Homo sapiens: one gene and its partners. The protein of the gene in region 4 interacts with the protein of the main gene of each other region in a pairwise test. Each region holds a gene or a part of one and is shown on either strand. Other genes may lie near its edges.

What was found.
Region 1: the proteins of SLC38A7 (region 4) and CREB3L3 interact in binary tests that used the Homo sapiens proteins (3 or more experiments, as listed by UniProt).
Region 2: the proteins of SLC38A7 (region 4) and LYVE1 interact in binary tests that used the Homo sapiens proteins (3 or more experiments, as listed by UniProt).
Region 3: the proteins of SLC38A7 (region 4) and SERP2 interact in binary tests that used the Homo sapiens proteins (3 or more experiments, as listed by UniProt).

Annotation. Positions count from the first base shown.
Region 1 is NC_000019.10:4,169,531-4,174,274, reverse strand, and holds the end of CREB3L3 (cyclic AMP-responsive element-binding protein 3-like protein 3), read right to left. Parts: intron 4,136-4,744; coding exon 4,067-4,135; intron 3,185-4,066; coding exon 3,100-3,184; intron 2,893-3,099; coding exon 2,796-2,892; intron 2,620-2,795; coding exon 2,306-2,619; 3' UTR 1,221-2,305; downstream 1-1,220. UniProt on the Homo sapiens protein: Transcription factor that may act during endoplasmic reticulum stress by activating unfolded protein response target genes. Activated in response to cAMP stimulation. In vitro, binds to the cAMP response element (CRE) and box-B element.
Region 2 is NC_000011.10:10,564,494-10,573,134, reverse strand, and holds the start of LYVE1 (lymphatic vessel endothelial hyaluronic acid receptor 1 precursor), read left to right. Parts: upstream 1-4,469; 5' UTR 4,470-4,602; coding exon 4,603-4,687; intron 4,688-8,641. UniProt on the Homo sapiens protein: Ligand-specific transporter trafficking between intracellular organelles (TGN) and the plasma membrane. Plays a role in autocrine regulation of cell growth mediated by growth regulators containing cell surface retention sequence binding (CRS).
Region 3 is NC_000013.11:44,390,688-44,399,507, reverse strand, and holds the end of SERP2 (stress-associated endoplasmic reticulum protein 2), read right to left. Parts: intron 8,083-8,820; exon of another isoform or gene 5,321-8,082; intron 2,237-5,320; coding exon 2,196-2,236; 3' UTR 1,794-2,195; downstream 1-1,793. UniProt on the Homo sapiens protein: Interacts with target proteins during their translocation into the lumen of the endoplasmic reticulum. Protects unfolded target proteins against degradation during ER stress. May facilitate glycosylation of target proteins after termination of ER stress.
Region 4 is NC_000016.10:58,667,771-58,676,590, forward strand, and holds part of SLC38A7 (sodium-coupled neutral amino acid transporter 7), read right to left. Parts: intron 8,577-8,820; coding exon 8,519-8,576; intron 8,352-8,518; coding exon of another isoform or gene 8,306-8,351; exon of another isoform or gene 8,285-8,305; coding exon 8,170-8,284; intron 7,954-8,169; coding exon of another isoform or gene 7,844-7,953; exon of another isoform or gene 7,764-7,843; intron 7,573-7,763; coding exon of another isoform or gene 7,544-7,572; exon of another isoform or gene 7,480-7,543; intron 4,474-7,479; coding exon 4,326-4,473; intron 3,475-4,325; coding exon 3,275-3,474; exon of another isoform or gene 3,100-3,274; intron 2,398-3,099; coding exon 2,343-2,397; intron 1-2,342. UniProt on the Homo sapiens protein: Symporter that selectively cotransports sodium ions and amino acids, such as L-glutamine and L-asparagine from the lysosome into the cytoplasm and may participates in mTORC1 activation. The transport activity requires an acidic lysosomal lumen.

The DNA of each region.
Region 1 (4,744 bases), on a different chromosome or scaffold from region 4:
CTACAGCCCACCCTACCCCTCCTCCATGGGCCCTGCAGGAGGGGAGACCCACCTTGAAGTGGGGGATCAGTAGAGGCTTGCACTGCCTTTGGGGCTGGAGGGAGACGTGGGTCCACCAGGCTTCTGGAAAAGTCCTCAATGCAATAAAAACAATTTCTTTCTTGCATCTCAGTGTGTTTACTTTATTTTATTGAGCCAGAGTCTCACTCTGTCACCAAGGCTGGAATGCAGTGGCGTGATCTCAGCTCACTGCAGCCTCTGCCTCCTAGGTTCAAGCAATTCTCCTGCCTCAGCCTCCAGAGTAGCTGGGATTATAGGTGTGTGCCACCACACCCAGCTAATTGTTTGCATTTTTTGTAGAGATGGGGGTCTCACTATGTGACTCAGGCTGGTCTCAAACTCCTGGGCTCAAGCAGTCAGGCCACCTTGGCCTCCCAAAGTGCTGGACTTAACGGGCGTGAGCCACTGTGCCCAGTGAGTGTTTAAATTCCCTATTTGTGGCAGGTCCTCGCCCCCCTGGGTCAGGAGTTCGTGGTCCCCTCCTCCCTGGACCAGCTGCTTGGGCTCCGTTGCAATCCCTGCCCCTCAAGCCTGGGGGCCGAGGAACAAGGGCTCACCTCTCCCCCCACCCCGCCTCTGGAGGGATCAGGCCAGTTTTCTGATGATGAAGCCAATAAGGCAGCTGGCATTTTCTGAGCACTCAGTTTGTAGTTATACACTTATGCACATGCTTTTTGTTGTTGTTTAACATTTACCCCCAGGCTATGAGTCCCCACCTGTGCTTTGGGCGCGATTTTGCGATGGCGCCCGGGCAGGCGCGCACAGCCCGCAGTGGGGGCGACCCCACAGACGAGCGCAGGAGCAGCCGGGTTCCACTCTCCCCAGCTGTGACCTTAGGCAGTCCCTCCACTTCCGACGCCTCGGTGTCCTCGCCCGCAAAATGAGCAGGGTGGGCCGCCCAGATCCCCGGGAAGGCAGCTGCCTTCCCCGCAACTCCGGAGGGGACACCTTGGAAGCGCCACGCCTGCCTCCCCGCACTCCGCCCGCCGCCGCTCTCCAAGGTGCTGAAGTCGTGCCCGGCGCCTCTCCCTCCGCTGCTCCAGCGCGGGCATCTGGCGGGGGTGTGGAGCCCACACCTCACTCACCCATCCCAGGCTGGCCCAGCCCCTCCTTCTGGGGAGTCGAGGAGCCCCAGACTCCGCCTCCACACCAAAACAAGGTTCTGTCAAAATACTTTATTTCGGATCAGGCAGTCTTAGAAAAGGGGGGTGATTGTGGGCCGTGGCTGCTCCAAAGACCAGGGCGCACCCGGGGCTCCGGGGCCAGGCTCCCTGCAGTCTCGGCGGCTTCCTCCTCCCAGTGTGCGAGGGAGGCCGGGAGGGGTCCCTGGGCGGGGAGTTGCTGCGCATCTGTTGTGTGTGTGCGTCTGTCTGTCTGTTCAGGTCTGTTTCAGACTACGTCTGCCTGTCTGTCCAGGTCTGTTTTAGGCTGTGTCTGCCTGTCTCTCTGTCTGGGTCTCTTTCAGGCTGCGTCGGTCTGTCTGTCTGGGTCTGTTTCAGGCTGTGTCTGTCTGTCTGTCTGGGTCTGTTTCAGGCTGTGTCTGTCTGTCTGTCCGGGTCTGTTTCAGGCTGTGTCTGGGTCTGTTTCAGGCTGTGTCTGTCTGTTTGTCTGGGTCTGTTTCAATCTGTGTCTGTCTGTCTAGGTCTGTTTCAGGCTGTGTCTGTCTGTCTGTCCGGGTCTGTTTCAGGCTGTGTCTGTCTGTCTGTCCGGGTCTGTTTCAGGCTGTGTCTGTCTGTCTGTCCGGGTCTGTTTCAGGCTGTGTCTGTCTGTCTGTCTGGGTCTGTTTCAGGCTGTTTCTGTCTGTCTGTCCGGATCTGTTTCAGGCTGTGTCTGGGTCTGTTTCAGGCTGTCTGTCTGTCTGTCTGGGTCTGTTTCAGGCTGTGTCTGTCTGTCTGTTTGTCTGGGTCTGTTTCAGGCTGTGTCTGTCTGTCCGGGTCTGTTTCAGGCTGTGTCTGTCTGTCCAGGTCTGTTTCAGGCTGTATGTGTGTCTGCTCTTTGCTTCTGCTCCTGGCTCTGTGTGTATTTCCCGGGTCCTGTGGCCCTCTTTGCCTTGTGTCTGAGTGTCGGTTCCTGCGTGGGCCTCAGTCAGGCCCTGGGTGTGTGGCTATGAGCTGTGCCTCCCCCATTCTGGCATCTCTGCTGGGGTCTTGGCCTCACGTCCCATCCCCAGGTGGGTAGCTGCCCAGTGCAGCATCCCCAAGGCACCCCTGGGCAGAGGGGCCTGGGAGCATAGTCCTGGCGGGGCTCACAGCTCGTCTCCCGCCGCCTCCAGCCCTGCACGTCCTGAGCCAGTGCTCGGCCCAGGCGCCACCCAGTCCAGCAGGGCGACCTGGCCCAGCCCCTCTGTTGCATTCCTCAGGACCAGGGTGGCGTTGTCCAGCTCCTCCGTCGAATTGGTCAGGTTCGCGGTGTCCTGGAAGCCCCAGTCTGCCCCGGGGCTTCCTGGAGACTCTTCTCGGGTTGTGTCAGCCTCGGGTCGGGGTCCTGGGGCCTCGGAGCCTGGCACAGCATCAGCAGCCACGCGGGAGGCAGCATCGTTGTGCAAAGTTCTGGAGAACACTGATTGGGGAAGGGGGGCATCACAGGGGACAAGGTGGAGGTGGGGTCCTATGCTCCCTTCCCTGGCCCCCAGCCTCAGGGAACAAGGGCACAGGGGTCTTCTCCCCCTCCCCCAGAGGCCCAGGACGGGGACTTGGGGAGACCAGACAAGGGTTTCAAAGGTGGGGATCCCCTACCTCGTACAGGCGCAAAGTCCCCAGGGCTCTCGGTTTTGTTGGGGCCAAAAGGGCTGATGGAGGGGAGGATGATGAGGGCAAAGGACAGCAACAGGACCTGGTGGAGACAGCGGCAGAGTCACCCCCTCCCTCCCCTCCCCTGCAAGCATCTCCATCCCACAGGCAGGGAAACTGAGGCCCCAAAGACCAGACTGGATCATACTTGAGCTGGGGCACAAGGAGAGCTTGGACTCATTGTCACCTCCCTATGGGCCCCTCTACAGAAGCCTAGGTCCCCGGCTTGCCTGGGGGCACCAGGACTCACTGCGACACAGGTGCCTGTCTGGGCTGACTTGCTGGTGGACTGCACCACAATGGCCTGGAGTTTCTTCAGTTGCTCCAAGAGGGACCTTAGAGAGACAGGCAGGCCTCCGCTGAGCCCTAAAGGGCCTCGGTTCTGCTTCTCGTCCATTTCCGGGGTCCCCCAGCCCCGCTAAAGTCCAAATTCCATCCATTCTTCAAGGGCCTCTGGCTCTTTATTATTTATTTTATTTATTTATTTATTTGTTTATTTATTTATTTATTTATTTTGAGACAGAGTCTTGCTCCATCGCCCAGGCTGGAGTGAGTGGTGGGATGGCAGCTCACTGCAAGCTCCGCCTCCCAGGTTCACACCATTCTCCTGCCTCAGCCTCCCGAGTAGCTGGGACTACAGGCGCCCACCACCACACCCAGCTAATTTTTTTTGTATTTTTAGTAGAGACGGGGTTTCACCGTGTTAGCCAGGATGGTCTTGATCTCCCGACCTTGTGATCCGCCCACCTCAGCCTCCCAAAGTGCTGGGATTACAGGCGTGAGCCACCACACCAGGCCTTATTTATTTATTTTTGAGACAGAGCCTTGCTCTGTCACCCAGGCTGGAGTGCAGTGGTGCGATCTCGGCTCACGGCAACCTCCGCCTCCCGAGTTCAAGCAATTCTCCTGCCTCAGCCTCTCGAGTAGCTGGGACTGCAGGTGCCCGCCACCACGCCTGGCTAATTTTTTTGTATTTTTAGTAGAGACGGGGTTTCACCATGTTGGCCAGGCTGGTTTTGAACTCCTGACCTCAGGTGATCCACCCGCCTCGGCCTCCCAAAGTGCTGAGATTACAGGCGTGAGCCACTGCACGCGGCCCATAGGTAAAACTCTTATTCCCTATGTCATTCTGCCATCACATGGGCTCTCTGCTCTTCCTGCAAAGGGACTCTGGGGCTGCTTCCCCTGTCCTCTGCCCCAGCTGGACCCAGACTCACAGGTTTTGCTTCTCGAGATGCAAGACTTTCCTCTGTAACTCCTGATTCTGAGCAGTGCAAGCTGACATCCTGAAAGGAGGAAGACGCATCGACATTCAGCATATGCCAGTCACCAGCTGGCCCCACTGACATCTCCCCCAGAGGCCTCACGTTACAAGCCAAGAGAACCCAAGGCCAGAGAGGGGAAGTCATTCATCCAAGGTTACTCGGCAGGTCAGACAGGGCTGGGATTTGAACCCACATCTGCCTGGTTCCTAGGTCCCATTTCTGCATTAATATGGAGGGGGCTTCATTCAAAGCTGAGCCCCCTGGATGGGTGTGGTGGTTCACACCTGTAATCCCAGCACTTTGGGAGGCCGTGGTGGGCGGATCACCTGAGGTCAGGAGTTCAAGACCAGCCTGGCCAACATGGTGAAACCCTGCCTGTACTAAAAATGCAAAATTAGCCAGGTGTGGTGGTGGGCGCCTATAATTCCAGCTACTTGGGAACTTGGGAGGCTAAGGCAGGAGAATCGATTGAACCCGGGAAGTGGAGGTTGCAGTGAGTCAAGATCGCACCATTGCACTCCAGCCTGGGCAACAAGAATGAAACTCTGTGTCAAAAAAAAAAAAAAAAAAAAAAAAGCTGAGCCTCCTAGATTCAGGCAGTGATGTTTCCAGAAGATGAAATATCAGGAC
Region 2 (8,641 bases), on a different chromosome or scaffold from region 4:
GTCACATACCTGAGTTTGAAAATAAAAGCACATTTCCAAACCTCTGGCAGCAGCCAAATGCCTCCTCATTTTATGGAGTTGAATTACAGTCTTACCCCAACCCAGAATTAGATGCCTTTGGATATATTAGTGCATTCCAGAACCAAGTCAGAGGTCCCCAACCCTTGGTCGTTATACTATGGGCTACCTCACAGGGGCTGGATCAGTTCCTCCTCTTCCCTTCCCCATTCCTGATCCTGGTTTCCTGTATCTTCCTGGTCTATGATTTTTTTAATTAACACAGTTTGCTGTGATTGAGTCTGCTGAGTTTTTAACCAACCTGATTTCCACAGCTGAACTATTTTTGTCTTTCTTACAGCTAGCTGCAGGGGAATGTGGACTTTCCAAATCTAGTTCCCTAAAAATAAACTCTCCTGCCCAATACTTCACACCTTTTTTTACTCCCTTCTCTGCCTACCAAAGCCAGAGGATTCAGATGAGAACACTGAGACCCGAGAAAATGGCAGAACCACTAGACGGAAGCTGGGTCTTTGAATGAGCACTCCCAGTATTGAACTGTGACATGAATAAGAAATAAGATTTTAGTATATTAAGCCACAGAGATTCCAGGATGTTTATAGCAGTTAGCCTACCCTAATGCATACATTTGAACCAGAAATTGTGTACTTTAATAGCAAAATTCCAAAATATGAGGTTCTAGCTTACCAGTTACATGGCAAGAAACAAAACTGCTAGAAAGATGGTAAGATAGTAAAGTCTTACCTGTGATAACTTGGAAAGCATCTCATGGTTAGCCTATTTATAAGTGGTGGAAAGAATCAGCGTTGGGGTATGGAAACTTCTCTTGGCTGCCTTTGGCAAGGTATGGCAGGAGAAATAATTGGCTATGTGGGAGCAAAAATGAAAAAGAATATAGAGTATTCAGAAATGTGAAAGATTGAAGGGTGAGAAAACCTGACCACTTCTAAATCCCAGACAGACTAAAAAGAGCTTTGAGTGGGAGCCAATAAAATTTCTCAGTTGAACAGATCGACTCAGCCTTATGGCAAAGGCTAGATTAAGGATGTGGCCCTTTGTGAGTTCAAATGAACTTAGTGTATTCACCACTAAATTTGAGGGGTATGGTGCTGAGAAACAGGAAATACTTCTTGAGAATTATGACTGGGAAAGGATTTGGGGTATGATTATTGGCACATGGAAGCAGAAATCTAACTTTGTGAGGGAATTTACAAAGAAACACAAGCCAGGACTAAAAACCCCTTTCATTGTTCAGGTGAGGAAACAGCTTTGAGGAGGAAAGAAAATATATCAGAGAGATACCTGCACCCTCATGTTTATTGCAGCAGTATTCACAATCGCCAAGATATGGTATTAAAATGTGTCCAGCAACAGATGAGTGGATAAAGAAAACATGGTGTACATACACAACGGAATAGTATTCAGCCGTAAAAAATGAAATCCTGGCATTCACAGCAACATAGATGGAAATGGAGGTCATTATGTGAAGTAAAATAAGCCATGAACAGAAAGTTAACACCACATGTTCTAATTCATGGAAGCTAACAAAAGATCTCATGGAAGTAAAAAACAGAATAGAGGATACTAGTGGCTGGAAAGGGAAGAGAGGAGGAAAAGACAGATTTGTTAAAGGACATAAAATTAGGAGGAACAAGTTATAGTGTTTTATGGCACTATAGGATGACTATAGATAACAATAACATATTTTCAAATAGCTGGAAGAGAAGATATTGAACACCCCCAACACAAAGGATAAATGTTTCAGATGATGGATATGCTAATTAGCCTGATCTGATCACTACATCTTGTTTGTATGGAAACATCAAAATGTACATGTGTATAATTATGTATTGATTAAAAATAAAATTTTTTTAAAATTAAGAAAACTTTTGGGATCTTAGCTTATGCCGGCAGGAAGCAGACTGCAAAAGCTGTGCTATTCCCAAGGAAGGCATACTCCCTAATATCCACTTCAAATGTGGACAAGCAAGATTATATGCAAATGAATCTCCCAGAGGGATGCAAAGGGCCGCAGAAAACAGTGGATGTGGAAGTTTCTCTCAGAAAGCAGATCAGAATCAAATCAAGGTTAAGTGACTGTGGAAGGCAGAATTTCTAGAATAGCCCTCCAAAGATGTCCCACCCTAATCCCTGGAGCCTTTGAATAGGAGCTCCAGGGGTATGGAGCTTTGTTGTGTTACATTAGATGGTACAGTTGACCTTAAGATAGGGAGGTTATCCAGGTGGGCCCATGAGCCCTTAAAAGCAGACAGCTCGCCGGGCGCGGTGGCTCACGCCTGTAATCCCAGCATTTGGGAGGCTGAGGCGGGCGGATCATGAGGTCAGGAGATCGAGACCATCCTGGCTAACACAGTGAAACCCTGCCTCTACCAAAAATACAAAAAATTAGCTGGGTGTGGTGGCGGGCGCCTGTAGTCCCAGATACTCGGGAGGCTGAGGCAAGGAATGGCATGAACCCAGGAGGCAGAGCTTGCAGTGAGCTGAGATCACGCCACTGCACTCCAGCCTGGGCAACAGAGTGAGACTCTGTCTCAAAAAAAAAAAAAAAAAAAAAAAAAGTAGAGAGCTCTGCTTGAGCCCAGGAGGTAGATGCTGCAGTGAGTCACGATGGCGCCACTGCGCTCCAGCCAACAGAGCAAGACCGTGTCTCTTAAAAGAGCAGAGAACTTTCTCTGGCTAACTGTAGAAGTGAAAGAGAGACTAGAAGTATGAGAAGGACTCAGTGTGTCATTGCTGCTTTGAAAATGGAAGGGCTCTAGGAGAAGAGAATGGTCCCTGGCTGACACCCTGCAAGGAAACAGGGACCTCATTCCCACAACCTCAAAGAAATGAATTCTGCCAACAACCCAAATGTGCTTCGAAGTGGATTCTTCCCCAGAGCCTCTGGGTAAGAGCCCAGCCCAGCCAGCACCTTAATGTCAGTTTCGTGAGACCCAGGGCAGAGGACCCAACTGAGCCCACTCAGACCTCTGACATATAGAAGCTGTTAAATGATAAATGAGTACTGTTTAAGCCGCTAAGTCTATGGTAATTTGTTGGACAGCAATAGAAAGCTGGCACAGCGACCTTTCTAAGGCCTCTTCATTGGTATTCCAGAAATTCTATGGCTGGTGATCACTGTGACTCTCATTCTCCTCCTTGACACAAAGCCTTGCCTTCCCTGATTCATTCTTCCCCTTCCTGTCTTCCTTCGTTCTTTTTGCAATAAGTGAACAAATGCTAGAAAGCTAGCTCTCTTTCGGGCATGGTGTTAGGCTTTAAGAATAATCATGAAGAGGCCAGGACTCTGCCTGTCTGCCTCCCTGGTGCTGTGATGATAGAGTCATGCATGTTTCTGAGAAACTGGGGCTTGTGCTCACCCAGATCATGAGGTCGGTATTGGAGATGTGTAAGGGCTGTTACCCTGGTCTTTTAGAAGTTCCCTGCATTTGTTTAGAGCAGATTCTCTTTTTGTTATTGATATTTTTCACACAAATATCTAACTTTATGACCAGTACCACTTATATAAAAAAGAATTCGTTATCCATATACTTTTCCTATAAAAGACATTCATTTTGGAAAAATCTCATAAACCTTTGCCCAAGACATTGCTTACAAGCCAGAACTCCATAATTACCATGAAGCAAAAACCACTGAAAATCCGGCTGGAAAAACATAGAATACACTCTGCTGGTACACAGCACAGATAAACCTCATGTTCATCGAACAACAAAGGTGGAGTCTGACTTGAATTCTGGCCTACCAGAATATGAAAGGAGTTATTAAGAGAAAGTTATTTCATAAAAGACCCCTGTGGTGATTACTATTGTAAAGTTAAAAATCCTTGGGGAAAGTGTAAAATGTTTAATTTTGTAAATTGCCCTCCTACTTGTGTTATGTAAATGTGAATGTTTATATGTGCCTGGTTTCTTTGAAAAAGGAATCACCTGTAGTGGTGTAGAGATTTCAAATGTGTAAAAGGAGACTCAAAGGAAGGCAGAAGGTTCTAGACTCAGTATTTAAGTGGACATTTACTTTCATGAGCTTCAGCATCATACCCTGCAGATCACAAGGCCGAACAGCTGGGTGGAAAAATCACTGATTGCGGGAGGAAAAGAGGCACAACCTATGCTCAGTCTCCTTTAGGGACAGAGATGTTTCTAGGAGTACATAAACGATGGACTCCACAGGCAGTAACAGTGAATGGTGTGAGAACTGAGCTGCTGGGGGAGGAGGAACAGCAGGGAATATGGGAATTGGGAGAACCTTTAGCAGTTCACACTGTGCTATCTGCCTTCCTCATTTGTGTGTTTTCTGAGTCAGCATTAGCTAAATTTTCCAGAAGGCCATCCACAAAGTACAGCCTGGGCGTTCAAGGGACGTCATTCATTTCCCCCAGTGACCTTGACAAGTCAGAAGCTTGAAAGCAGGGAAATCCGGATGTCTCGGTTATGAAGTGGAGCAGTGAGTGTGAGCCTCAACATAGTTCCAGAACTCTCCATCCGGACTAGTTATTGAGCATCTGCCTCTCATATCACCAGTGGCCATCTGAGGTGTTTCCCTGGCTCTGAAGGGGTAGGCACGATGGCCAGGTGCTTCAGCCTGGTGTTGCTTCTCACTTCCATCTGGACCACGAGGCTCCTGGTCCAAGGCTCTTTGCGTGCAGAAGGTAGGTTTCTCACCAGATTTCCAAACTGAAGCAAGGCTTCAGTCCTAAGCCTCCTAAGCTGTTGACTATGGATTTCTGGGAATGAGGGTGACCCTCAGTGTCAACAGCAGGTCTAATTGGTGGTACTGCTCTGCCAAAAATGTACCACCATATTGTCAACTTCACCAAAATGATTGACATTTACGTTTGTATCATCTGGACTTTTACTTTTGGTTATGGAATATTTTTAATGAGGACATTTTGAAATAAAACACTGAAGAGAAACCATTTGATTTTTACTCTTTTTTGTATGGGTGGTATTTAAATTTTTTGTAGCAATGGGATCTCGCTTTGTTGCCCAGCCTGGTCTTGAACTCCTGGCTTCAAGTGATCGTCCTGCCTCAGCCTACCAAAGTACTGGGATTGCAGGCATGAGCCACTGCATCCAGAAGTAATAATTTTTTTTTAAGTATTTCATTGAAGACGCAAACCATGATTGTAAAAAATTTAAAGCAATCACTAAGCTTGGGAATAATGGGTAACTTTCACTAAAATTGGCCTGTTTTTATGTTTTTTGGGAGTGTTAGCATAATTATTTTAATTTTGATTTTATCATACCATGAATGAGGTGCAATGTTTTAAAAAAATATTCAGTAAATAGCAAATTAGCTGAAAAAAATCTGTAAAAATATAAGTTTGAAAATTAAGCCATCGGCTGTCTACTAAAGGAATGACTTAAAGTGATCGCTGGGCTTTTGAGATGCCTAAATGGAAACCTCATTTTGCACTGTAGGCAAAAAAATTGTAACCACAAATCACTCATTGCAGCTCTGGGCAAATGAAAATCTGAGCACTTTAATAGGAAAATGTGTGTTCCTATGCTGGAAGATGACCTGAGATATAAAATATGCTAGAAACAGACATTCAGAGTTGATTTATATGTTGTTGCATTACATTTTATAAGAAAGGTCAGAGTTATATGATTAGTTTTTTAAAATACTGTTACTTTCAAATAAGTTTGGTCCTCTTTGAAATCCTCTGGGGAGACTATTTTTCCCCACAATGCTGCCATTATTCAAACTATTGGACACTGTTTTTTGAAAATGACTCCATCACACTCTGGACTATCCTCAGCAAGGGAAAAAGATTTTCTAGGGAAATTACATTTTTGGAAACAACCAAAAGTCAGCATAACCATGACTGCAGAATAAAGTAGTTGATGAAGGTAAGTGAATAGGGGTGGGAACTATATTTGAGGGCCAAGTATATAGTGATCCAGAGCTAGGTGTGTATATACAATTTCATTTAATCCTCTCAAAAAGACAGTTTATAGGTGAAGTGACTTGCCCAATGTCATGCAGGCAGTACATAATAAATATTGGGTTTGAATTCAGCCCTATCTGATTCCTAAGCATATGCTATTATCTGATTCCACATCCTTATATCTAACTCCTAAGCATACACTATTTCTACTATGTTTGCTGTTTCCTGAGAAATCTTAAGGAAGGAGTTACTGGAGTACTCCCTTAAATTCCAGCTCCCTCTTTTGATCCCTAAATGAAATAGGAAAGCATAAAATGACTAATGTTGTTGACTTCCTACTGGGCCCCGCCTCTGCTAGGTACAAGTTATCTAATTTAATTCTGATAAAAATCATGTGAAGAAGATATATCCATCCCCATTTTCAGATGAGAATGCTGACTTGCCTGATGTCGCAACAGCCAGTTAACAATAGAAAAAATATTCAAAGCTAAGTCTATCCACCTAGAATAAGTCTATCACTCCTCTAAATAATAGTATTTAGAGTACAAATGACATATGATGAGAGGGTAGTAAGACCAATTGATAATGTGACAAATAAACCTCTGCAATCCATTCCCAAAGAAGTAGCTATAAGAGACCTGAGCAATAGCAAGCTCATGAGCTAAAAGAGCCAAATTTCAGAGCAAACGGTGTGTTCAGGGAGTTCAGCCTAGGGGTGTGTGTGTGTCTGTGTGTGTTCATTTCCTTATAGCACTGTGAAAGGTAAAACAGTGTCATTGTTAAGAACTGGGGGCCGGGTTGGGCACGGTGGTTCATGACTGTAATCTCAGCACTTTAGGAGGCCGAGGTGGGTGGATCACCTGAGGTCAGGAGTTTGAGACCAGCCTGGCCAACATGGTGAAACCCCATCTCTACAAAAAATACAAAAATTAGCTGGGCATGGTGTCTCGCGTCTGTAGTCCCAGCTAGTCAGGAGGCTGAAGCACAAGAGTTGCTTGGACCCGGGAGGCAGAGGTTGCAGTGAGCATGGATCACGCCACTGCACTGCAGCCTGGGTGACAGAACGAGACTCTGTCTCAAAAAAGAAAAAAAAAAGGGCCAGGCACAGTGGCTCACGCCTGTAATCCCAGCACTTTGGGAAGCCAAGGTGGGTGGATCACCTGAGGTCGGCAGTTCAAGACCAACCTGACCAACATGGAGAAACCCTGTCTCTACTAAAAGTACAAAATTAGCCAGGTTTGGTGGCACATGCCTGTAATCCCAGCTACTTGGGAGAATGAGGCAGGAGAATCGCTTGAACCCAGGAGGTGGAGGTTACAGTGAGCCGAGATCACGCTATTGCACTCCAGCCTGGGCAACAAGAGTGAAACTCCGTCTCAAAAAAAAAAAAAGAACTGGGGTTCTTGCTTGGCCATACTGGTGCACACCTGTAGTTCCAGCTACTCAGGGAGGCTGAGGTGGGAGGATTGCTTGAGCCCAGGAATTTACGACCAGCCTGGGCAACATAGCAAGATCCATCTCTTGGGAAAGAAGAAGGAAAAAAGAGGAACTGGGGTTTTAGAATCAGGCATAATTGAGTGTGTGCTCCTAATCTGCCACCACAGCAAGGTTCATATGGAGGACTTAGAAATGCTCCTTCCATGTTTTCAAAAAGAAACTTCCATTAGATATCAACCTAGGAAGTGGTCAAAGCATTTGACTGAGCATCCAATACACAGAGCTGCGTACAAGCAATTACTTGAGAGATTTAAATGCCCTTTTATGGATGTTTGTGGATGAAGCCCAGTAGGAATAATGTATTTGAATACAATACAACTTGGCAATTTTATACAGGTCTGTACATCCCAGAACCCAGAGAAAAGGGTTCAAAAGAATTCCCAAATCCATTAGATTTTGAGTAGAAATATTATTCATATCTTACCTATTCAACAGCCTCAGCTTCTGTGGGGTAATCAATCATTAGCAGACCAAAACCAAAATGCTTTAACGATAATGATAATGTTATGTGGATTTATTAAGCACCTACCATGTGGCAGGCACTATGCTAAACATTTGTATTAGAATTTACTCACTTAACTTTCACTACCCTATTCAGTAGACACTGTTACTCCCTTGAATTTATAAACAAGGAGGCTCAAAGAGCTGAAGATTAAAGAGATGAAGTATCTAGGCTAAGGTCACAGAGCTAGCAAATGACATATGCTAGATCTAAGCCCAAGTCTGACTCTAAAATTCTGCTTTCTTCATTTAGTTTTTCTGCCATTCAAAGTTTACTGCCAGCTCCTCCAGGAACTTCTGAGTAAGCCTGTCCCCCAGTGGCCAAAAGACCTGGAACTGAGAGCACTCACATTCTTTTATAACAAGTGTGACATTTTCAGCCCATCTCACAAATAGTAGTGTCCCCAAACCACATTGGTTTGGGGTATTGCTAACTATTCTATGAACTAGAGCCCTGAATTCTATCTTTCTCAAAGTCTCAGATGCTTCATTTTACAGACTCCAGAAAGGTTTGCAGTAACTGCATCCCTTAGACTGCACCCCAACAACAGGTAGCCAAAGCCCCTATATGGTGAGCAAGGCATCTTAATGCAGTGGGATGGGATAGATTTTGATTGGGCGACATTTACAGCTTGGACAAGAACAAGCATCCATCTAGCCCAGCAGATGGTCCTTGTGGAAAATGCCTGGTCTGTGTCCTGTTATTCTAAACCC
Region 3 (8,820 bases), on a different chromosome or scaffold from region 4:
TACGTTTCACAGGGAAACTGCTGTCATCTCTGCAGTACAATATAGATCAACAATGGCCCTAACTTCCCTAAGACAGCTCTCATGTCTGCTTGCAGAGAACAGATGGAAAAAGTCACCAGGGAGGGTAGATTGCCATATACAAGTACTTCAGGGAGGCTACCTGGAAACTAATAGAAAACCAGTTTATGGATGATTGCAGAGCCTGGGGAGAGAAATCAATCTTGGACAGTTTTATGGATGGCAGCCAACAGCCTACCATGCTCAGCCCATCGCACCTGTCACCTGGGGACAAGCAGGGTCTATCTGGAACGGACTCTGGCCAGGATTCAGTTTCTCTTTCCTCGAAATGGGGATAATCACCCTCTTGACTATTGCTGTTATGGGAAAGGCCAAATTAGGGGAAAAAAATTCTGTCCAATAAGGGATGAACCACAAAGCTCAGGCCAGTAATGGCCTCTATTGGTGGTTTGGGAGGTATGCTTGTATGGGCATTAAGGGAGAAAGAGAAGGTCTGCACTCTAATCAAGTCTAGGCAATGTGGGAGTTGGAAAGAGACACATGGGAACACAGACCCAGTCACCTGAAGGCAAGAGCCTTTCTTTTTCCTCCTCTTGGCAGGCAGCGTGGGCTCCCGGGCCCCAAGCAGGATCCCTTAGGGCTGATCTCTTACCACACACTGGTCTGACTTGGTGACCTGGAAGAGGACAGTCAGAGCCAACAGGATGAGGGGACCAGCTTGGAGAGCATCTATTGTATGCCACCCTTGAGTGGCTGGAAATGTCTTCTGCCACTTTGCAAGGGGCTGGGGGCTGGGGAGTGGGAGTGGCAAGGGAACACGGGGTGGTAGATTGTTCCCAGGGCTGCTGGTTTTGGAGCAGTCTGACTACCCTCTCTTCTTAGTGGGAAAGAAAGGAGGAAGAAGGGGGAAGGGATGCTTTTGGAGGGGAGCTCTAAGGGTGGGAGAAAAGAAAGCCTGAAAGAACATCACTAAAGGGTCTGAAGTTAAAGACTCCAATGAACAAGAAGCCCCTAATTCAAACAGTGCCACTAACACCAAAACCTGTAAAGTGGTCCAGAGAGACCCTGGTCATGTCTGTAACTTTCCTTTTTAAAGCTCTCGTGAAGTTAATGAATGAAAAAATTGCTAATGCAAAGATGGAAATTAATAAAAACAAAAGCGTGCTTCATATTGCAGGGTGACCACCTCTAATCCTACCAGTGATCCTGTGGCTGTCCCTGTAACTTCCTTTGGCAACACCATGCTTTGAGAAGCTGTGGGGAAGGCTGGCCAGGGAGAGAGCCTCACCCCCCAATTCTGCCAGCTGATCCCCCAGAGGGCTGCAAGGCTCCTGATTTACCCAGACCTCTGGAGTGGCTGAGGCTGGGCTCTGGGGTTGGATGGTTCTCACCAAGAGGCCTGGGACATCTGCTCTGTGCTAAGCTCCGAGGCAGACCACAGAGGAGATAATGACTAATCGGACCTTCACATACATTGTACATGCCTTTTCTGAACTGAAAAAGAGAAGAACAAACAAGATAAAAATATTGAAAAAAAAGAAGAATCAAATGTGTAGAAAATGCAAGGTCATTAGAACTGCCCAGGGCTTCATTCAGGCAAAGATCTTGAGGGTCTGGCCAGGGACCTGCTGAGTAAATCTAGCTCTGGTTCCCCTCCCACAGATTCCCTGCGCCTCCTCCAACTGCATAACCAAATCTCCCCACCTCCCAACTTTCCTTGAGCTATTCTGCTGTTTTCTTCACTTTAGTTTTCTCACTGTAACCCACACATGGTATAAGGTTGAACGAAGACATTTATTTGTAAAATCAATTCTCAATGGAGGAGAGATTGTATCCATAGAAAGTAAACCAGTGATCGTTCAGAGGGCCACATGCACGCATTAGTGAAACCAAGGGAAAAACCAAAAAAACAGCACTGCTGCGGACGACCCGCGTGGCTACTAATCCTGCCAACAGAAAAGCAAAATGTCCTTTCCGCTTGAGAACGCGGATGCACCAAGATGTCCTGTGAGAAGGCAATTTGGTCTGACATCCACGATGAAGTGATCAGGGAACAAGTGGGGGAGCGTTTTTTTCTATTCCGTGTGGCCTGCTTGTTTCCCGCAGAAACTGGCTGACCGCTTCCGTTGTCCTCCCGCCTCCAGTGGGAGGGAGGTGGTGTCAAATCCCTGGCTTTCTCACATGCCCATCCTTATGCTCTGAATGATCTGAAAGATAGCTGAAAAGAGGAAAACACCACAGCTCAGACACCAGACTGCACACAGCTGGAAACCCAGCCCACAGTGAGCCCGGCTTCTGCAGACCCCTGGGCCCTGACGTGTTAGCTCACAGCTGATTAGATATTTCCTAACAAGGAGTTAAGTTAACAAGAGGTCAGTGAACTTCTTTAAAAAGGCAGCCTCGCTCAGTCGGCTGATGGATGCCTCAGGGATTTATAGATAACTCCTGCTAATTCCACCAGCAGTTAAGGCCAGAAATCCCTCAGGCACTGAGAAGAGATTTGGCCCCCTTCCCCAGCAAAGTTCTGGGGCTGCCTGGGAGAGGGATATGGGCTTTCGTGCAGAAACTGCACTCATTAAACAGGTCAGTGAGTCTGCCTTTTCAAAATGGCTGTGACCTGTAAAACAATGAGCCCTGTGCTGGGAAGGCCGACCAGGTGCTCGGAGCAGCCCACGGGGCCCGGCCTCTGTCTGCCTAGAACCCTCCATGCGTGAGTATCTTCCAGCTGCTTGGAACTCTCTGAAAGGCGGCTGTCTCTTATGGAGAGCGGCACTTATTTATTCAGGGCTCAACCTTTAATAACTGGAGTTGTCAAGGGGGTGGGTAGCTTGTAAGCCCACAGAGAACTCCTGGGACCCTTGCCCATGTGGATGAGAGCTGGTTACATAGCTTCAGCCTGCTTCCAGCTATTGGGTTTCAAATGTGTCCCAGGAGCGGAAGATCCCAACTTCTTTTTCACATCTTCCCCAGTGAGCAACCGTGGTCAGTGTTGACAAAGATGATGGTAATGATAAGAGTAACTACCATGTATTGAATGGCTTTTTTTTTTTTTTTTTGAAGGAGGGTGGGTATCATCTCATCTAACCATGTGTAAAAACAGAATAAACACTGAGCTCTCAGGGGTCTTACCCCTTCTCGCCTTCTTAAAGTCATCCTGGAATACATCCAGGATCCACGGTAAAACAGAGTTATCCAGAACCCTAGGAAACCAGCCATTCAAGTTTCATCATCTGGCATCAATGAGCACATCCTATGTGTCAGACACTGCGCTTCAAGGATAGAAAGAGAAATGATGGACAGGGCCTTGGGGAATCGTTCTTGGACAGCTGGGTTTTAAGAGTAGACAAACATGAATGCATTTTTTGGCTTTTTTTCCCCGTAAAAACACTGTACCCATCATCACTACCTTTCTAAATTGGAGATACCAACATATTTCAATGCTAACTTTTCATGAGTGTTCAGTGTCACCATAATGAAAACCAGTAACTGATGAGACGTGCTGTGATCTCATTACAGAGGAGGCTGCGTGTGATCTGACACTGAAATGCTTCTGGTCAGCTGCACTTCTGGGCTCCCATTTCTGCTTCTGATCATTTTTTGGGTCTCTTTCTTCTCATCTCTGGTCACATCTCTTGTATTACTACACCAATCTGCAGTGGGTCCTGTACTATTATTTTGTTGCCGTAGACTAAGCTGAAAACAGAAACTGTTAGAATTACGAGTCAAATCAGAGTCAATCAGCTCCATGTGAGTGTCAGGGACTCATCTGTAGATATGGTGAAGGTGTTGGTCCAACAACTTGTGATATTTAATTCTGGATGTGCTCAGATATTTTCTTAGCTAAGTTTGGGTTCTTGGGTGGGTCTTTTTTTTTTTTTTTTTTTTTGAGACGGAGTCTTCCTCTGTCGCCCAGGTTGGAGTGCAGTGGTGCGATCTCGGCTCACTGCAAGCTCCGCCTCCCCGGTTCACGCCATTCTCCTGCCTCAGGCTCCCGAGTAGCTGGGACTACAGGTGCCCGCTACCATGCCCGGCTAATTTTTTGTATTTTTAGTAGAGACGGGATTTCACCGTGTTAGCCAGAATGGTCTCGATCTCCTGACCTCGTGATCCACCCACCTCAGCCTCCCAAAGTCCTGGGATTATAGGCGTGAGCCACCGTGCCCGGCCTTGGGTGGGTCTTAACAGGAGCAGTTGGAAGAGAAAGTACCCTACAACAATTTATAAGCTTGCAGAAATATCTGATGTTTCTTTCCTCCCCACCAAGGCTCACAAGGAGTAAAAATTAAATAAACATTCTGTATTCTGGCTCAATAGGAATGTCAGGAGGCAGCTGTATATTCAACATTAGGAAAAAAAAGATTACTTCTACCATGCCTCAGACTTTGTTCTTGTGATCAGGGAACTATCGCTAATCCTGACGAACAAGTTGACTTTAGAGCAGAAAGTTAGGATCAGATGGAATTGGGTTGAATATCAGCTCTTTGCTGAAAAGCTGTGTGACTGGACAAATAATTAATCTCTTAGAGGCTGCTTCCTGTTCTGTAAAATGAGGATCATGGCCTTTGCAGGGCTGTCACAGGGATTAAACCATATGACATATAGGAAGGGTCCTCACACATGGAGGACTCACTGCCTGGTAGCTACTGCTATCATCACTGTTACTATGACTACAACAACTGCTGCTTCTCCCTGTCCCAGCATGCAGACCAGTGCTTAGCACTATCTGCCAGCCTACAAAGCTGTGAACTTTGGGAAATTACTACACAGTTCTGAGCCCTGCTTTCTCTACCTATAAAACTGTGGATAATAGGTACCTCAAAGGATGGCAAGGAATAAATACGATGACATAAGTAGATGCTCAAAAATATTACTTCTCGCTTACTCTTGCCCTTAGACAAAAACTTATCAGCAGGATGTAAGTCAACAAATAGGAAACCATCTGTGTCTTAGTCCATGTAGCCCCCATATTAAGTTAATTCATAACTTCAAAAGTTCGAGGTAATAATAAGAAACCATGCAATTCTTTTTGAAGGAACTGTTACAAATCTCTTTAAAGAATCTAAGACAGTCCAGGTGCGGTGGCTCATGCCTGTAATCTCAGCACTTTGGGAGGCCAAGGTGGGCAGATCATGAGGTCAAGAGATTGAGACCATCCTGGCCAACATGGTGAAATCCCGTCTCCACTAAAAATACAAAAATTAGCTGGGTGTGGTAGTGCCAGCTACTTGGGAGGCTGAGGCAGGAGAATCGCTTGAACCTGGGAGGTGGAGGTTGCAGTGAGCCGAGATTGCGCCACTGCACTCCAGCCTGGGTGACAGAGCAAGACTCCGTCTCAAAAAAAATAAATAAATAAAAATAATAGAAAGAATCTAAGATAAAGTTTGCACGTCTCAGAACAGCGACACTGATATTAAAACAACTTACCTAGTTCTTTGAGTTTGCTTTAAAAACTGAGGATCATTCCTGATCATAATTGAATCCATGAATTAACATATAAGAGTCCAGCGATCCTTAACATGTTCACAGATGAACCTTCTTGGAGACACTACTTTGAATAAAGTCTATTTTTTTAAGTTCACCATTTACCTCCACAAGATAACAGAGAGATGACTGTGTTTATTATTTCTTTTTCAGTTGTATCATTGTCTTTAAGAAAACTTACACATTCTAATTATATTAACTGTAATTCTGTGTACCTGCCAATACTGACCTGCAGAGTAACCTCAGCCTTCCAAATGCTGACTTTCTGAGGCGGCAAATGGGAAGGGAGCCAGCAGTGAGTTCAAAAGAGGGAAAGGAAGCGGGGAGTCTAGACCCTGACAAGTTAATAACTTAACAGTGGGTGAACAAAGCTGAGAAAACAGCAGAACAGGCTGCAGGAGAGGAACTGTGGGCAGGCGAGACAGCGGGGAGGAGAGATGCCAAGAAAGGGAGGGACAGCAGGCGTTCCAGGGCAGGCGATCAGGGCGTGGGCAGGTCCCAGAGGTTCAGAAAAGTCCAGGGGAGAGCAGGAGCTACCAGACCCACGAAGCCTCTGCATCCTCCTACCTGTGTCAAGGATCCTGGCCCTTGGTAACCTTAGATGATACCATTTCTCTTTTTTCAGCACCCCTTTCAACAAAGTCTTTAGGCTTTAACATGCTAGGAGCACTCCCACTGAAAAATCAAATACACCAGAGCTATCTGCCTGACTCCACATCTCCATCCACAGGGCCCTCTCTTCCTCTTCACAACCATTTCTAAAGAGCTGTCTATGCTCACTTTCTGCACTCTCTTACCTGCTATTCTCATGTCAGTCCACCTCATTTTATCTTCTGCTCTCTTCCCTCCATTGAATATCTTTTGCTAAAGTCACAAATGACTTTTGAGTCGCTTAGTGTAACAGGCATTCTTCCACCTTCTTTTGCCTTACCCCCTGCTCACCCCCGCTGGGCACTTCCTGCTTGAAACTCTCTTCCCTTGGCCTCTGTGAAACCATGGTCTTCTAGGTTCTAATTTTCCTCCTTCTCTTGGATCTTTCCTCTAAACTTGTTTTAGAGGAAACAATCCACTTGACCATTAAACATAAGCGCTGACATTCTGCAATGAACGTCACTGGCTTTCTTCTCCTTACGTTCTTTCTTCTTAGGCAATGCCTCCCAGCCCACAGTTTGAATTGCCACCTAGCTGTTGATGATGCACAAATGTGTATCTCCAGCCCTGACTTCTCTGAGCTCCAGCACACCTTCCACTATCTAGTTGATATCTACAGCTGGGTGGCTCAGAGGTACCTCGGACTCAACAGGACCTTCTCATGATCTCGTCCCACTGCTAAAACTGGCATCATTATCTTCCATCTTGGATGTAGACTCAAAACACCACAGTCCTTCCTGACACCTCCAATTGATAACCAAGACCTGTGGATTTTACCTGGGAATCTTGTGATTATGCACCCTTCTTTCCATTCCTCAGAAGCCACCCTAGTCCAAGTTACCATCATCCTCCCCAAGACCCCAGTGAGGCCCTCCCAGTGCTCGACTCTTGCTCTTCTTCCATCCTTTCTCCATACTGTAGCTAGAATTATCCTTTCAATAAAAGCAAATAATATATTGTCACTCCCGTGTTTACTGCACATCAAAAGCTTCCCGTTGCCCAATCCCTGATGAGGCCTTCATGACCTGCACATCATGGTCCCTGTCCAGACCTGTCAGACTCACCTTGTATCACTCTTCTCCTTGCTTGGGGTACTCCCTCATGTTTTCAAAAGCTCCCTGCTCTCCTGCTCTCACCACAGGGCTTTTTTTTTTTTTTTTTGAGACAGAGTCTCACTCTGTCACCAGCCTAGAGAGCAGTGGCACGATCTCGGCTTACTGCAACCTCTGTCTTCCGGGTTCAAGCGATTCTCCAGCCTTAGCCTCCTGAGTAGCTGGGACTACAGGAGCGCACCACCATGCCCAGCTAATTTTTTTTGTATTTTTAATAGAGACGGGGTTTCACTATGTTGGCCAGGATGGTGTCAATCTCTTGATCTCACGATCCACCCGCCTCGGCCTCCCAAAGTGCTGGGATTTACAGGAGTGAGACCACAGGGCTTTTACACATGCCATTCTTTCTGTCTGAAATACTTCTACCCCACCCTATTCCCTAGTTTCCTTCATCAACCAAAATTTAATGTCTTCAGAGAAGCCTTCTTTGATCACCTGGAGCAGAGGTTCTCAGACTTGAGCATGCATCACAGTCTCTTGGGGACAGGTTAAAACACAAATGCTGGACACCTTCCCCCCAAACCCTGGAGTTAAGGGATGGAGAATCTGTGTTTCTAACAAGTTCACAGGAGATGTTGAGATGCCGGTCCAGGGACCACACTTTGAGAACCACTTACCTGAGAGTACACCAGTCCTTTGCATTGTATGATTTCATAGCCCCATGTGCCTCTCCTTTACATTGTTTCATGGCTGAAATTGTACAGTTTCATGGCTGAATTGAAAGTGTTTTGGTGTGATTACTTGATTAACTCATCTTTCTTTGCCATTAGACTATAAGCTCCAGGATAACAGCGACCAGGTATGGCACAAAGTAGGTCCTCTGTAAATATTATTGAATTACTGAAAAGTGAACGATTGCAAAGAGCACAGAGGAAATTACATTTTAAAAACCTCAAATGACTACTTTGCAAACCCAAAGAGTCAGCATCAAATGGCTGCCTTTAGATCCAAATGTCTCTAAAGCTCAGTCTTCGAAGGGGAAGTACAAGACTATAAACTCCTAAAGGCCTGATAATGGGCCATCCCAACCGACTCTCACCCTGGGGACTGACCCTCCCCAGCTAAGAGGGAGTGCCAGAAGGACACAGGGATGACATAACAAGTGGGTCCCATAGGAAAGTGTCAGAAAGCTGGAACCCTGCCAGGTAACAGGAGGCTTCCTAAAGCCACTTTTATTGACAATAAATTGATGATAAAAGAGATCAAGGGAGTTGCTGAGAAGAGAGATTAAGAGAGGCCGGAAGAAGAATATCCTTTAGGAGAAGAAGACAACCTAGAAATCATACAGTTTTGCTTATTTTTCATTAAAGAAAATGAAAATGATGAAAGAGCTGGTAGAAAGCAAAGTACAGGCCCTCTGAGAAACAAGCTGAAATGTTAGGAGACGAGACATTGCAAAGTGGATCACTAAGTTCTCTAAAAGAATCAGCACAAAGAAAGTCAAAAGCAAGATGCCATTTTCTGGTGGCTTCTCTAGAGATGGAGAAGAGGGAAAAAAGAGAGATGCCGGAGACAGGCAGGGCAAGGAGGCGCTATTAAAACCCAGATGTTATTAGCA
Region 4 (8,820 bases):
CACATGGAATGTGGTCTATTTCATTAAAAAAAGGAAACAAAAAGCAGACATCTGCAAATGTATGTACCAATTAACAGCAACAGGGATAAAACGGAATTGAAATAAAGGGTGATTTCCGGCCGGGTGTGGTGGCTCACACCTGTAATCCCAGCACTTTGGGAGGCCAAGGCGGGCAACCTGAGGTCAGGAGTTCGAGACCAGCCTGGGCAAGATGGCAAAACCCCATCTCTACTAAAAACAGAAAAATTAGGCTGGGTGCAGTGGCTCATGTCTGTAATTCCAGCACTTTGGGAGGCCGAGGCAGATGGATCACCTGAGGTCAGGAGTTCAAGACCAGCCTGGGCAAGATGGCGAAACCCCATCTCTACTAAAAATAGAAAAATTAGGCTGGGTGTGGTGGCTCATGTCTATAATCCCAGCACTTTGGGAGGCCAAGGCAGGTGGATCACCTGAGGTCAGGAGTTTGAGACCAGCCTGGCCAGCGTGGTGAAACCCCGTCTCTACTAAAAAAATACAAAAAATGGCTGGGTATGGTGGCTCACGCCTGTAATCCCAGAACTTTGGGAGGCCAAGGTGGGCGGATCACCTGAGGTCAGGAGTTCGAGATCAGCCTAGCCAACATGGTGAAACCCCGTCTCTACCAAAAATACAAAAATTAGCCAGGCATGGTGCTGCGCACCTGTAATCCCAGATACCCTGGAGGTTGCAGTGAGCCGAGATCATGCCACTGCACTCCAGCCTGGGTGACAGAGCGAGATTCCATCTCAAAACAACAACAACAAACCCAAAAAATTAGCTGGGTGTGGTGGTGGGCGCCTGTAATCCAAGCTACTCAGGAGGCTGAGGCAGGAGAATCGCTTGAACCCGGGAGGTGGAGGTTGTTGTAGTGAGCAGAGATCGCGCCATTGCACTCCAGCCTGGGCAACGAGTGAAACTCCATCTCAAAAAAAAAAAAAAAAAAAAAGACAAAAAAAAAAGAAATAAAGGGTGATTTTTTTTCTTCTTCTTCTTTTTCTTTTTTTGAGACAGAGTTTTGCTATCACCCAGGCTGGAGTGCAGTGGTGCGATCTCCACTTACTGCAACCTCCGCCTCCGGGGTTCAAGCAATTCTCCTACCTCAGCCTCCCGAGCTAGGACTACAGGCATGCGCCACCACAACCAGGTAATTTTTGTATTTTTAGTAAAGACGGGGTTTTGCCATGTTGGCCAGGCTGGTCTCGAACTCCTGACCTCAGGTGATCTGCCTGTCTTGGCCTCCCAAAGTGCTGGGATTACAGGCGTGAGTCACTGTGCCTGGCCAATTTTTTTTCTTTTTTAGACATGTTTGTATGGCTTTTTTTTTTTTTTTTTTTTTTTTTTTTTGAGACAGAGTTTCCCTCTTGTTGCCCAGGCTGGAGTGTAATGGTGTGATCTCGGCTCACTGCAACCTCCGCCTCCTGGGTTCAAGCAATTCTCCTGCCTCAGTCTCCCAAGTAGCTGGGATTACAGGCAGGTGCCACCATGCCCAGCTAATTTTGTATTTTTAGTAGAGATGGGGTTTCACCATGTTGGTCAGGCTGGTCTCGAACTCCTGACCTCGGGTGATCTGCCCATGTTGGCCTCCCAAAGTGCTGGGATTACAGGCATGAGCCAATGCACCTGGCTGAAACCACTTTTCATAAAACAAAACAAGAGCCCTGCATCTATGTATACATCTCCATAGCTATGTGTACACAGACACGCACACATGTACAGAAGTGGTTGAGGACACAGACCATACTGGTAACATGGAGCTATCTCAGAAAGGATGTGGGGGCGAGTGGGTTGTGGGGGAAGAGGGACTTCCATCTTTTTGTATTAAGCCCTTTATTAATGTTTAAATTGTTAACAACTAGCACACTACCGAATTTTTAAAAGTATTAAAAAAAAAACAACAACAACCTGGCTGGGTGTGGTGGCTCACGCCTGTAATGCCAGCACTTTGGGAGGCCGAGGAAGGAGGATCACCTAAGGTCAGGAGTTCGAGACCGGCCTGGCCAACATGGTGAAACCTCGTCTCTACTAAAAATACAAAAATTAGCTGGGTGTGGTGGCAGGCATCTGTAGTCCTAGCTACTCGGGAGGCTGAGGCACGAGAATGGTGTGAACCCAGGAGGCGGAGCTTGCAGTGAGCTGAGATCGTGCCACTGCACTCCAGGCTGGGCGACACAGCGAGACTCCGGCTCAAAAAAAAAAAAACAAAACAAAAACCCATGATTTCTAAGTACACAAGCCTCTGACTCCTATCTGTTTTAAGGCCCCCACAAAGCCACATTCCAATCCAGCACCTCCCTGAGAGGATCAAGGGCTGGGTCCTGCTTTACCTGGCTGGTTTGACCTCTTCCATCTCAGAGAGTTTGGCTTGAATGAGGCACAGCCCTGAAAGAGAAGAAGTGGCCCTGAGCATTTGTGAGGGGAGAGGGCTCCCTCCCTCCTAGCCACCTCCTTTCCCAAGAAGCAGTGCTGGATGGAGAAAGGCCCATGTTTACTCTTCTAGAAATTCCATCTCTGCCCCCACACCACATCCTGCTGGGGTCATCTGGCATCTGCTCTCCCATGACAGGCTGGCATCTGACAAGACCCCTTGGGCAGCATGCTAGACTCAGCTAAAGGGACAGCACTCAATGGTGACTCAGTGGTGGCCCAACCCCAGGGGTCTTCCTAGTACACTTCCCAGCAGATCTGGCTCCCCTGCTCCAAGCAAAGCAGCTGGGGCTTTCAGGGTGGCTTCCTGGATAGAGACAAGCTGGAAAAGGGTGGAACTCATGGCTGGGCAGACAGGACAGTTCTCCAGGGATCTGGCGGTAGATCTGTGTCTGGAACCCAGGTTCCCTGATGTCTGTGTCAGGGTGCCACCCCAGACCCCACTGCCCTCTGGGCTGTAATGGGCTGAACCAGCCAGATAGATCCCTCATAGTCAAGGAGCAGCAGACACCTGAATGAATGGTTAAAAGAATAGACTCTGGACCCAGACAGCGTGGGATGGAAAAGGTTACTAGTTGAGTTTGTTAAGCTCTAGGCAAGTCTGTGACCCTTTCTGAGCCCCACGTGCCATCAGTAAACTGGAGATCACAACTATACCTTCTTTCCAGGAGATAATGCTTGGATAGGGGCTAGTACAGAGGCGAGACAGGTGATCAATTAGTGCTGGTGGTTACTCTCTCCTGCATGTTTTGAGCAAGTAGGGAGCTGAGGCTAGGCAGGCCCTGGGAGTCTGTGCTGTGGGGCTGTGAGATGGGGCGCCAGGGGTCCGCACCTGGGAAGACGAAGATGAAGCAGGCGGCCAGGCCTCCAATGACTGAGATCACCTTGCCGATGTCAGGGATGAAGAGCGCCAGCAGCAGGGTGAGCAGGAACCAGACCAGCGTCTGCAGCACTCGCCGCCGCCGCTCCCGCCCCACGTCCTCCTCCACTGGCACCCCCTGGTAGCGCAGCCACAGGCCTTCCACCACCGCCCTGCCCACATGGAGAAGGGCTTAGAGGTGCCCCTGCTGCTAGCAGCTCCCCACCTCTAGCTCACAGGAGCCAGACCCCTAACTGGGTAGACTGCGGGGAAAGCCCCATTCCTGACCCTCAGTTTCCTCTTCTGTAAAATGGGCCACCAGCACTCTGTTTACCACAGGGACTAGAGACGGTGAATGTCGAGAGCTTAGCACTTTGCTTTACATCACATGGAAACTGATATTGTTTTTTCCTTAAAAGGAACTGTCTGGGGCATCCAAAGGGGAGGGTGTCCATGTGAAAGCTCAGGAAAGGATCTGGATAGAGATTCTTTTGTTTTTTGTTTTTTTGAGACAGGGTCTGGCTCTCTCACCCAGGCTGGAGTGCAGTGGTGCAATCTTGGCTCACTGCAGCCTTGAACTCCTGGGCTCCAGCCATCCTTCTGCCTCAGCCTCCCAAGTGGCTGAGTAGCTGGGACCACAGGTGCATCCCACCACACCTGGCTATTTATTTTATTTTGTGTAGAGATGGGGTCTCACTAGGTTGCCCAGGTGGTCTTGAACTCCCAGGCTCAAGCGATCCTTCTGCCTCAGCCTCCCAAAGTGCTGGGTTTAGAGACGTGAGCCACCGTGCCATGCCATGGATAGAGATTCTTACAGGACTCACGGAATGTTCTGGTGACCCCAGGACAAAGGGCGCTTCTGACACCTGGCCTGGGATATGTAGGGACCCATCCTAGGCACCGACTCTTTTCTACAGGCTTCAGTTTCTCCTTCTACAGGATGGGGTCCACACAAGGCCAAAGGACCATGTTGGAAGCGCTCACAGGGGCTAGGAGGGGCCCTGGGGAGTGGAAGGGGGCTCACCGCCCACAGAAGTGCAGGATAGGGTAGGAGGTGAGCACGCTCAGGATGATGAAGGCTCGGGCAACGGCCACGGCCATGTCCTCCGAGGGATAGGACAGGAGCACGTCAGGATCCACAGCAGCTCCAAAGGTCAGGAAGCCACAGATGCCTGTGGGCAGGGACAACTGGGTCAGGGCAACCCTGGGAGGGTAGTGGGGTGGACTGTCCACTCCTCCTAGGAGCAACATCAGCCTGGAGGCTGCAGCAGCAGCTCTGGACACTTAGACGGAGGCTCAGAGTGGGAGATGGGGCTCCGATCAGATGCCTCCCTCCCTGACTTCTCAGATCCCCCATCGCTGGAAGCCCTCCAGCCCCCAGCTTTCTGAGCCTGAACTTGCCCAGCACATTCCCACCTCAGTGCCTTGGCACTGACTGTTCTGTCTGGCAGACCTTCAGATGCCATCTCCTTATCATTTGGGTCTCAGTTTAGATGTCCTTCCTCAGAGAATGCTTCCTGCCAGTCCATCTACAATGACCCCCACCCCAGGCACTCTCTCACATCACGCTGTCTTATTTTTCTTTTCTTTTTTGAGACAGAGTCTTGCCCTGTTACCCAGACTAGAGCGCAGTAGTGTGATCATGGCTCACTGCAGCCTTGACCTCCTCGGCTCAAGCGATTCTCCCACCTGAGCCTCCCAGGTAGCTAGGACTACAGGCAGATGCCACCACACCCAGCTAATTTTCTTGTAGAGATGGGGTCTTGCTACGTTTCCCAGTCTGGTCTTGAACTCCTGGGCTCAAGTAATCCTCCTACCTCACCCTCCCAGAGTGTGAGCCACTACACCCAGCCTTCTTCTTTTTTATTTTTTTGAGATGGAGTTTCACTCTTGTTGCCCAGGCTGGCACGCGGTGGCACGATCTCGGCTCAGTGCAGCCTCCACTTCCCAGGTTCAAGTGATTCTCCTGCCTCAGCCTCCTGAGTAGCTGGGATTACACCATGCCCGGCTAATTTTTTTTTTTTTTTTTTTTTTTTTTTTTGAGATGGAGTCGCGCTCTGTCATGCCCAGGCTGGAGTACAATGGCATGATCTTGGTCTCCTGGGTTCTCATGCCTCAGCCTCCTAAGCAGCTGGGATTACAGTCACCTGCCGCCACACCTGGCTAATTTTTTTTTTTTTTTGAGATGGAGTTTTGCTCTTTCACCCAGGCTGGAATGCAGTGGTGCGATTTCAGCTTACTGCCACCTCTGCCTTCTGGTTTTAAGTGATTCTCCTGCCACAGACTCCCGAGTAGCTGGGATTACAGGCGCCCGCCACCAAGCCTGACTAATTTTTGTATTTTTAGTAGAAATGAGGTTTCACTATGTTGGCCAGGCTGGTCTCGAACTCCTGACCTCGTCATCCGCCTGCCTCGGGAAGTGCTGGGATTACAGGCGTGAGCCACCACGCCCAGCCCTAATTTTTTTATTTTTAGTAAGATGGGGTTTCGCCATGTTGGTTGGGCTGGTCTCGAACTCCTGACCTCATGTGATCTGCCTGCCTGGGCCTCCCAAAGTGCTGGGATCACAGGCGTGAGCCCCAGTGCCTGGCCGTTTTTTTTTTTTTTTTTAAAGACAGGATCTTGCTCTGTCACTCAGGCTGGAGTGAAGTGGTACAATCATAGTTCCACTGTAGTCTTGAATTCTTAGACTCAAGTTCCTCCTGACTTGGCCTCCCAAGTCACTGGGACTACAGGCACATGCCACCATGCCTGGCTAATTTTTTTTTTTTGAAGACAGAGTCTCACTTTCTCCCCCAGGCTGGAGTGCAGCGGCGCGATCTTGGCTCACTGCAACCTCGGCCTCCCAGGTTCAAGTGATTCTCATGCCTTAGCCTCCCGAGTAGCTGGGATTACAGGCACCACCACCACGCCCGGCTAATTTTTGTAATTTTGATAGAGACAGGGTTTTGCCATGTTGGCCAGGCTGGTCTCGAACTCCTGGCCTCAAGTGATTCACCCACCTTGGCCTCTCAAAGTCCTGGGATTACAGGCGTGAGCCACCATGCCTGGCGGACGCCCAGCTAATTCTTTAATTTTTGTAGAGATGAGTCTCACTATGTTGCCGAGGCTGGTCTTGAACTCCTGGCCTCAAGCGGTTCTCCCATCTCAGCTTTTCAAAGTGTTGGGATTACAGGCATGATCCACTGGGCCTGTCCCCTAACACTCATTTCTCTCTTTTTTAGAGACAGGGTCTCACTCTGTTGCCCAGTTTGGAGTGTAATGGCATGATCATGGGTCTCTACAGCCTTGATCTCATAGGCTCAAGCGATCCTCCCACCTCAGCCTCCCAAGTAGCTGGGTCCACAGGTGCATGTTACCATAACCTGGCTAATTTTTAAATTTTTTGTAGAGATGGAGTTTCACCATGTTGCCCAGCCTGTCTTGAACTCCTGGGCTCCAGAGAACCTCCCACCTTGGCCTCCCATAGCTGAGATTATAGGTGTGAGCCACTGTGACTGGCCTCATCGCTTTCTAATTTTTTTTTAACTGTACTATCACACTGGTCTTTAAGTAAACAATAATACAAATAAAAATAATAACAATAATAATAGTAATTAATTTTTACAGGCTTATTTTCTGTCTCCCCAGCCAGGACATGAGCCCCAGGAGAATAGGGATTTGGCTGTTTGCCTCTCTTGTTCCTGGCTGTGTATTCAGAGGCTAGAACAGTATTGGCCCAGGCAGCTCCTACGGTCTATCCGTGGAAAGAACTCAGGGGATCCTTCTTCCAGGGTCTCCTAGACTTGCTCCCTCACCCCAACCACTCTCCACACGGCAGCCAGAGCCACCTTTCCCCGAACCACCCCCCTGCTTAAAACACTTCCTCGATGACTCCCAGCAGCCCTCGAGGCCCAACAGGATCTGGCTGCCAGTGCCTGTCTGGCCTCACTGCCTTCACCTGCCCCCATCACACACCACTCCAGCCACATAGACTTTCTTCCTGGCCCTGCCTCAGTGATTTGGTGTTTTGTGGTTCCTCTGCCTGGAACCCTTCTTCCCCAGCTCCTCCTCTTCTGGCTCTTTCTCATCATTTGGGCCTTCTCTGAGAAGAACCTTCTGTGAACCACTCCCAAAGCCACCCATCCAGTCCCATTCATACCTTCCCCATTTTAGGCTGGGTTGGTGGCTCATGCCTGTAACCCCAGCACTTTGGGAGGCCGAGGCAGGAGAATTGCTTGAGCCCAGGAATTCAAGACCAGGCTAGGCAACATAGTGAGACCTTGTCTCTGCTAGAAAAAAAAAAAAAAAAAAATTAGCTGGGCACAATGGCACATGGCTGTAGTCCCAGCTACTCTGGAGGCTGAGGCAGGAGGATCACTCGACCTCAGCAGGTTGAGGTTGCAGTGAGCTATCATCATGCCACTGCACTCCAGCCTGGGCGACAGTTTCTGAGACCCTTTCTCAAAACAAAATAAAATAGAATAAAACAAAACACACCTTCCCTATTTCACTGTCATCAGGATGCTTGCCACCATCTGGAATTCCTTACTGATTCCCCAGTTACTCCTGCATGACTGTCTCTCCAACAAGAATGTCAACTCCATGAGGGCAAGACCAGTTCTGTCTCTCTCCATGGCATCCCCCATGCTGAGAACCGTTCCTGGCACTTCCTAGGCACCAAGTTAGAACTGGTGAATGAATGGATGAATACACCACTCTCATCTTGGCAGGAGGAGGCTCCAGGCAGGCCAAGTTCAAGCCAATGCCTATACAAGTCATGCTGGGAATGCAGGGCTGTCCCCAGGAAAGCTAGGCCCCAGGACCTAGGGACTCCTGTGGAAGTGAGAGCACTCTAGTCCCAGGTCTTGGGGGGGGGGAGCACTCACCTGTCCCCATGTAGACAGCGAGGGCTATGACCATGGCAGCTGTCACCACTCCACCCCAGGTCTTCACTTCAGGCTGCTGCATGCTGTTGAAGACGGGCACACTGCTGACGTGGCACTGTCCAGGTGAAGGGCACCGTCATGGTGGGGAAATGACCTCAACCCCAGTTTCCAGAGGAAGGTACCTTGGGAACAAAGACCCCAGGAACAAGGGGCAAGTCCTGAGGCCCCTGTTCCATCCTTCCCCCCAGGATTTCCTCCATTCTGCCTGGGTTCCTCCTCCTTGCTGGGTTCCATCCCAGGGTGGGGTGATCTAAGGGGACAGCAGGGACCTTGCAACTGGCACTGGCACCTGAAATCCGAAGCAGATGGTGGGCATGGCATTGAACACAGCCATCCAGGAAGCCGGCCTGTGAACAAACACACATGGTGCTGCCACCTGGGAACCCCTCAGAGCCACAACCCACCCCACGCCCTCACTCTTCGGTCAGCCCACCATGGTCTCCAGCAACTGGGATTCCATAGCTTCAACCCACAGAAGTCTGGGAACAGGGAGAAGAGGCATCCTTATGTCCCAGGGCCCTCTGGGATGGGGCCTGGAGGTTCAGAAAAGCCCCCCTGGGGCCAAAATCCAGAATTCCTGGCTCCTGGACT